Homo sapiens: one gene and its partner. The protein of the gene in region 1 interacts with the protein of each later gene in a pairwise test. Each region holds a gene or a part of one and is shown on either strand. Other genes may lie near its edges.

Region 1 (3,833 bases):
GCATCTGGAAAAGAATGAAAGTTAGTAAAGGTGATCAAGTTTCTTCCTCAGTATGTTCCACAGGTGCCCATTCACTTCAGAATTCTTTAGAGAGGGAGAAAAATAATACTTTTTTTCTTTCTTTTTTTTTTTTGAGACAGAGTCTTACTCTGTGTCGCTCAGGCTGGAGTGCAGTGGTGCGATCTCGGCCCACTACAACCTCCACCTCCTGGGTTCAAGCAGTTCTTGTGCCTCAGCCTCCTGAGTAGCTGGGATTACAGGCATGCACCACCACGCCCGGCTAATTTTTGTATTTTTAGTAGAGACGCGGTTTTGCCATGTTGGCCAGTCTGGTCTCGAACTCCTGATCCTCCCACCTCAGCCTCCTGAAGTGCTGGGATTACGGGTGAGACCCACCACGCCGGCCTAATAATACTTATTTTCAAGAAAGAAGTAGTTAACCTATGGCTGCTTACTTTTTTTTTTTTAAACTACCTAACATTTACATCTACAGTGAGGAAAATGTATAAAAGGCAGATAGATACTGAATTAGCGTCTCCCTCTGCACCTCCCACAAAAAGAACCTTATTACTATTTTGTTATTTATTTACTTATCTAATTTTTTAGAGATGGGTCTCACAGTGTTGCCCAGGCTGGCCTCGAATTCCTGGGCTCAAGTGATCCTCCTGCCTCAGCCTTCAGAGTAACTGGGATTATTTCACCACTGCACCTAGCTTCACTATTTTAAAATAATTTGCATGACTTTTTATGGAAGGGAATTAATTGCTATAAGCAACAAATAATACTAATAGTTTACTATCCAGTTTGTCTTATATTTTGGGATACTTTATCAGTTCTGAGGAGGTAACAAGATCTGTAAATCTTTATCTTTGTTAAACTGAGTGTAAAGAAAATAACAGTGCCAGCCAGGATATAATAAGAGCCAACTGTATAGTCCGGTTTTAGTAGTTCAGAGGAGGATAGATCATTGTAGGCTGAGATACTCCAGAAAGGCTTTGCAGAGGAAACGTGACTCAGTATAAACCAGAAAGGATGGGCAATAGTTTACGCTTAATGAGCTGAGTTTCTTATGTGTCAAGCACTGTGTTAAGCTATAAATGGAGTCTCACAACCCTTCAGCAATGGGATAGATACTATATTTTACATACATGGAAACTGAGGCACAGAGAGGCTAAAGAATTTGGCCTAGGTCATACAGCCAGCAAGTATTGTACTCAAACGCAAGCAGTCTTATTCTAGAGCTTTCACTTTTACCTCCTTACTATACTGCTTCCCTAGAATTCTGGTAGATAAAAGGAAAGAGAAGCACATTTTAGTAAAGAAAGAGAAGTAGGAATACAGAAAACACTTTTGTGAAGATAGCAAGTGGACTATTCTAGCTAAAATAGTTGAGTGGAAAATTCATGAGAGAGAAATTTGGAAAGATAGGTTGAAGCCAGTTTTTTATAGTATTGAATGCCAGGCTATGGGATTTGGATTTGGAGTCTTTAAATGAAATGATCTAATTAGGAAGTAGCAGAGGATCCTACCCTGATGGAGTGGGTTAAAGTTGAGAGCCTATAGATTTTGAGACTCTTTCGAAGATTATTATAGTAGGACTGACAGGTGATGATGGTGTCTTCTGCTATGTTGTGAGCAGCAAGATTAGAAATTAAGTTCTCTATTCCAATGAAGAATTTATTAAGGTAAAAAAATTAAAGAAATTAAGGTATCTAAAATTAATATTTCTTACACAAGTCAAGGTTAAATGAGGAACAAATGTGTATAATGTCTACTCCACCAATCTAAGAACTATGCTATATGAGAGACACATAAAGGGACTAGGGATAAATGAATTGACCTCTGCTGGTGGGATTGTTCTTATTAAATATCTAAAAAGCTATCATTTAAGAGAAGCAGTAGACTTATATGGCATGATTCTGAGGTAACTAGGACTCTTAGGCATAAATCACAAGGAGTATGTATTTCAGCTCAGCTTAAGTAAAGCTACCTAACATTCTACCGAAATGTTAGAGCTATTCAAAACCAAATGAAATGTGGCAAAAGTTGGTAAACTCTGTAGGACAAAAAGCATTGCAGGTTTTTGAAAAAGAATTCCAACATCTGTACAAGTTTGGACTAGATGACTAAAGGTTATTTTCACTACAAGCTTCTTTATCTAATTCAGTATCTAATATTTTGTGAATTAACCTTTTGAATTTCCATAGTGGGGTTGTGAGGGCAGAGGGTACTGTACCATCAAGTCAATTTCAGCATTCCATTATCTTGCACATAAAAATGAAAGAATCTCATAAATAAAATCAACTTGGGGGTTGCTGGAGGAGGAAGAAATTATTTTTGTTTCCTCTGGGTATTAGAATTTTCTTTTTACAGTTTTTATATGTTGAGGCCTAAAATGTTTAGGGGTGAAATATTTTTGTAATATCAGGTTGGTAAACTTCTCATAATGAAAGAAATTAAGGGGATATTCTCATAGATAACTCAGAGGCCAGTAGAAAGAAGCCCAAGAGAAAAAACAGCATAGATAATATTCTAAGTAAAGAACAAAGAGGTTAAATTCATGTAAGGTATGGCTTTCCGGTAAAACATTTATAATTTTATATTTGCTACTTTAGTAAGAATTTTGGATGTGGTATTGTGGCATAGTTTTGTAAGAGTCAGAATATTTCAGTCAACTAAACAATATTTTGTTATGCCAGCAAAATTACAAGTATTTAAGATGCTGTCAGGTAACTGGGGGTACATATTTGGTAATAAGTGCTGCTGATTTTGTTTTTGGGCAGTGAAATCTCAGGGTAATGGTATCATTTTAGGACTTACCTGTTTTGTTCATACAGTTGGCAGGAGACTATTTATACTAGTGCTTTTTCAAGCAAGTTTATCTAAATTTTGAAAGCTTTGGTTATCAGTTGCTTCTTTAAACAATATTTTACTACTCCCCCATTTGTTTTGGTTGCCAACTGGGTAAAAAGCTATCAGATATCTTATTGAGCAGTATATAATTTGCCTCTGAGTTCATATATTTCATCCAAAGGCAAGCAGATTATGTTTCGGCCTGGATAGCATTATATAAAGAGAATGGTCAATTCCACTTGGCATTTTTTGTAATATTGAAAATAGCTCACAAGTAACTCTGCCTCAATCTTAGTGGCCCACCTCTCACAGTATTACTATATCACACTCTATCACACACACTATTAATTTTGAGACCTGCCAAGAGACTAAAGAACCCAGGTTGAAAATCTGGGGGGAGAGGGAGCGAGGAGGAATGTTACATTAAATTAACTGCCAATACTTTGCCTATGATAATGAAGAACTTTCCCAGAGTTGCCCAGAGACTGGGCAAGAAGAAGGAAGAAATGCAAAGACCTGTTCATTACATCTTTGAAATACCTGTAATCATGACTTATTACGTTAACTGTTTATCTATTTGCATTTTTATCATTTATCCCAGGAAAGTGCAGATAACATACTCTCCATTGTTAAACAAAGAACAGGATCTTTTGGGGATCGTCCTGCAAGACCTACTCTTTTAGAACAAGTGTTAAATCAAAAAAGACTGGTAAATATCTGTTTGTAAATCAGTTATAAATGTGTTAACAAACGTTTGTTATAAATGGAACAATTGAGATTTTTGAGATTTTTAGCTCATGACATCACACTATACATCAAAATAAATTCCTAATAAGTCAAAATTTTAAAAAAAGAATCGGAACTTTACCTCAAAAATGTAATGAGATTTTTTTTAGCTTATATAGACAAAATCACAGAGAAAAGATTATAAACTTGACTACATAAAAATGAATGCTATAGTCAAAAATGGTGGCAAATTG
Region 2 (3,210 bases), on another chromosome or scaffold:
TTTCAAGGAGGAATCTTCTGCTTCAAATGTGTGCTGATAGGTTAAATAAGATAGTAGCTGGGAAAGAATTGGCTGGAGTTTAGCAAAGTGTAGTAGAGAGATGGGGGGAAAAGCAAAATTGAATTTCGGCGACATTAAGAGAAAATAGGAGAATGGGAATTGGAGTCCACTAGTACAGGCAACTTTTCGTGAACTTTGCTGTAAAAGGAGCAGAAAAATGGGCAGTAGCTGGGAAAGGACATGGTAAAAAGGACTTGTTTAAAGGTAACAGAAATCATAAAATAATAGCATGTTTGCAGGCTGATGAACTGATTCAGTGAAGAAGGAAAATTAATAACAGGATAAATAAGGGAGAAATGACTCAGTATTTGAATAGGCAGAGAACTTGAGGCCTAGTGCATACATGGATAGTTAGCCTTGGGAGCAGGGAAACAGCTCTTATATAACATAATAGGAAGGCAGGCAGAACATATGGGGAAAGTGCTGTTAGGAAGAACTACTAGAGGAACTTACGGAGGTTTTCTTCTAACTATTTTATTCATAAATTAGGAAATGAGATCAGCTCAAGGTGAGGATTGGGGAATAGGGTTAGAAGTTTGTAGAGAGAAAGTAGAATATATTCAATACTTGTCTAAGACAGTGGGCAGTTACATGACCTTAGGCAGGACTTCTTGGCCTTTGAGGCTGGGTTATTCTCTGCTGTAGGAGAGGCTGACATTATAGAATGTTGTGTGCATCCCAGGCTTCTACCCACTGTGTGACAGCAGCAGCCTTTCCCCTTTTTCTCCCTCAATTGTGACGACCAAAAGTGTCTCCAGATATTCCCAAATGTCCTCTGGGGCCAAAACTGTCCCCAGTTGAGAGCCACCAGTCTAAGGAAATGTAGTATAATTGTCAGGAAGCATTAACAGCCAAGTTAAGGTTCATAATCATGAATTTAACATGAGATCATTCAGCATTGTTGTGTTATATTCAGCTGTGCAGGTGCAGGCACAGAATACGCAGAAAGTTAGGTTTAACCAGGATTGGGGTTTTGCCAAAGGAGTACAATGAAGAGACTAGAGAAGAGCCAGGGAGTTATTTTAATAATTGATCATGGCATTTATACCAGGCGAGGATAAAAGTGAGGAAAGATGGTAGGAACACTAGACTGTAGGTCCTACTGGGGTCAAGGATTATAGAGATTGGGGTTCTAGAGAGGGTGATGTAATATTAGGGATTTTCAAAAAGAACCTACTCCCTGTTGGTGTCTAGGAAGGAAATCTCAGATGGAGGAAGTGCAAGATGAACTCATCCACAGACTGACCATTGGTCGGAGTGCCGCTCAGAAGAAATTCCATGTGCCACGGCAGAACGTGCCAGTTATCAATATCACTTACGACTCCACACCAGAGGATGTGAAGACGTGGTTACAGTCAAAGGGATTCAACCCTGTGTGAGTCTCTCTGTGAATACTTTGCAATTCTGTGTGTACAACATGCATTGTTTTCAATTTGCTTAGTTAGATGTCACAGATAACTGTTATAAAACATAAGGGCACAGACTGCATACTTTGTGCCATACTCAAGAACTCACTATAGCTGTTCATAGCTGAAAAAGAACTAAAATAAGCATAAATAATTATTCTGATGCCACCCCATTTTCGAATTGGTAGTATCTGTTCATTATTAGTTCTTTAAGCAAACTATTGGCAGCTTTGAGGCCCAGTAGCTTCTTTTCTCCATCAGATTACTGTGATGTAACCTAGGTAGGACCATGGTCTTAGCTGAACTTCCTAGACCACATAGGACATAGAGCATAAGCTTTCCTCCTGCTGCAGGATATAGTGTCTCTGGCAAATAAAAAATAGTGTTACCTAGCATCAATTATAATCTTAATAGAACTTTTCCTTTAATAAACCCATAGTAAAGGTTCTATTTATCTATCTAAAAGTCTATAAACATTTCATATGTATTTGGCACAATGAACTATTAGAATAATACATATTCAAGGGACCTTGACATATTATAAACTCACCTACCCAGCATGATTGAAAAATGAGATACAATGGTTAGTCAATTGCCAGGTTACTAGAAAGTTATCTATTCCTTCTATAAAACACCAAATCCCAAGAATTGGTATTAAACAATGACCCTAAACCGAATTGGCTCATTTTTGATACTTTGTAATTAATAATCTGTATAGCCTCAGGGTCATCATCATGAAAGAAACTTGTCATTGCCCTAACTATAAAGACTGTAGTGGCATTTAATAAGGGTTCCAGGGTATGGAACGCTTAGAAAAGAGAAGTTACTAGCAGGAACAGATAATTTTCTCCTTTGTTTGTAGGCAATATTTTTAATGCTCAGTTTCTTTTTCCTTTTTTTTTTTTTAGGACTGTCAATAGTCTTGGAGTATTAAATGGTGCACAACTTTTCTCTCTCAATAAGGATGAACTGAGGACAGTCTGCCCTGAAGGGGCGAGAGTCTATAGCCAAATCACTGTACAAAAAGCTGCATTGGAGGTATGACTTGTCAACCTAAGGTGGTGTTTTTCTGCAAATTGAAAGCTCTGGAAACAACTATTTATGTCCATATTGGCCAATTTCCCTTTCTTAACAGAGCTGAATTAAATTTAACTCTGCTTTTGTAAATTTGTCACTGAGATCATCAATGACAGTTTCCAGAAGGTTAATTTGTTATAAATGCTCATATGATGTGAAGCTTGAGCACATACTTTTGGAAACTTGACAAAAAGCATAATGTTCTCATTTTATATGTATTGACTAATTCTATAGGAAATTTAATTTTGACATAACAATGGAAATTAGCTTCTGAGTGAGTAAGAGCCTTAAGAGGCCAGAATCCTTGCCTATTCTTAATATTTTTTTTTTTTTGGAGATTCTAATAACGTATAGGTTATAAGATTGTAAAACCCTGGCTGTGTGTGTTAGGTCTAGTAATACATCTCAATAATCGGGAAAGATACATTAGGTAGAGATCACTGAAAATAGAGAGCCTGGAAAAGTATTTAATCACAATGGTCTGTATGAAAGCAGGAGAGTCATGTTTTCTAGATTGCTTTATACTTAAGCTTCCAATATCCTATTTTAGACTTAAAATGTGCTATATACGGGTAGTAGTTTCCAACTGTTACATCTCACAGCTCTTAATAGTTTCATGAAAATTATACTTGGACTCAAATGAAAGAATGTAGGCTTTGGCATGAAA

Evidence for each region.
Region 2: the proteins of RFXAP (region 1) and EPS8 interact in a two-hybrid assay, tested with the Homo sapiens proteins (one large-scale study listed by BioGRID and IntAct).

Annotation. Positions count from the first base shown.
Region 1 is NC_000013.11:36,821,974-36,825,806, forward strand, and holds part of RFXAP (regulatory factor X-associated protein), read left to right. Parts: intron 1-3,454; coding exon 3,455-3,562; intron 3,563-3,833. UniProt on the Homo sapiens protein: Part of the RFX complex that binds to the X-box of MHC II promoters.
Region 2 is NC_000012.12:15,622,452-15,625,661, reverse strand, and holds part of EPS8 (epidermal growth factor receptor kinase substrate 8), read left to right. Parts: intron 1-1,254; coding exon 1,255-1,435; intron 1,436-2,374; coding exon 2,375-2,504; intron 2,505-3,210. UniProt on the Homo sapiens protein: Signaling adapter that controls various cellular protrusions by regulating actin cytoskeleton dynamics and architecture. Depending on its association with other signal transducers, can regulate different processes.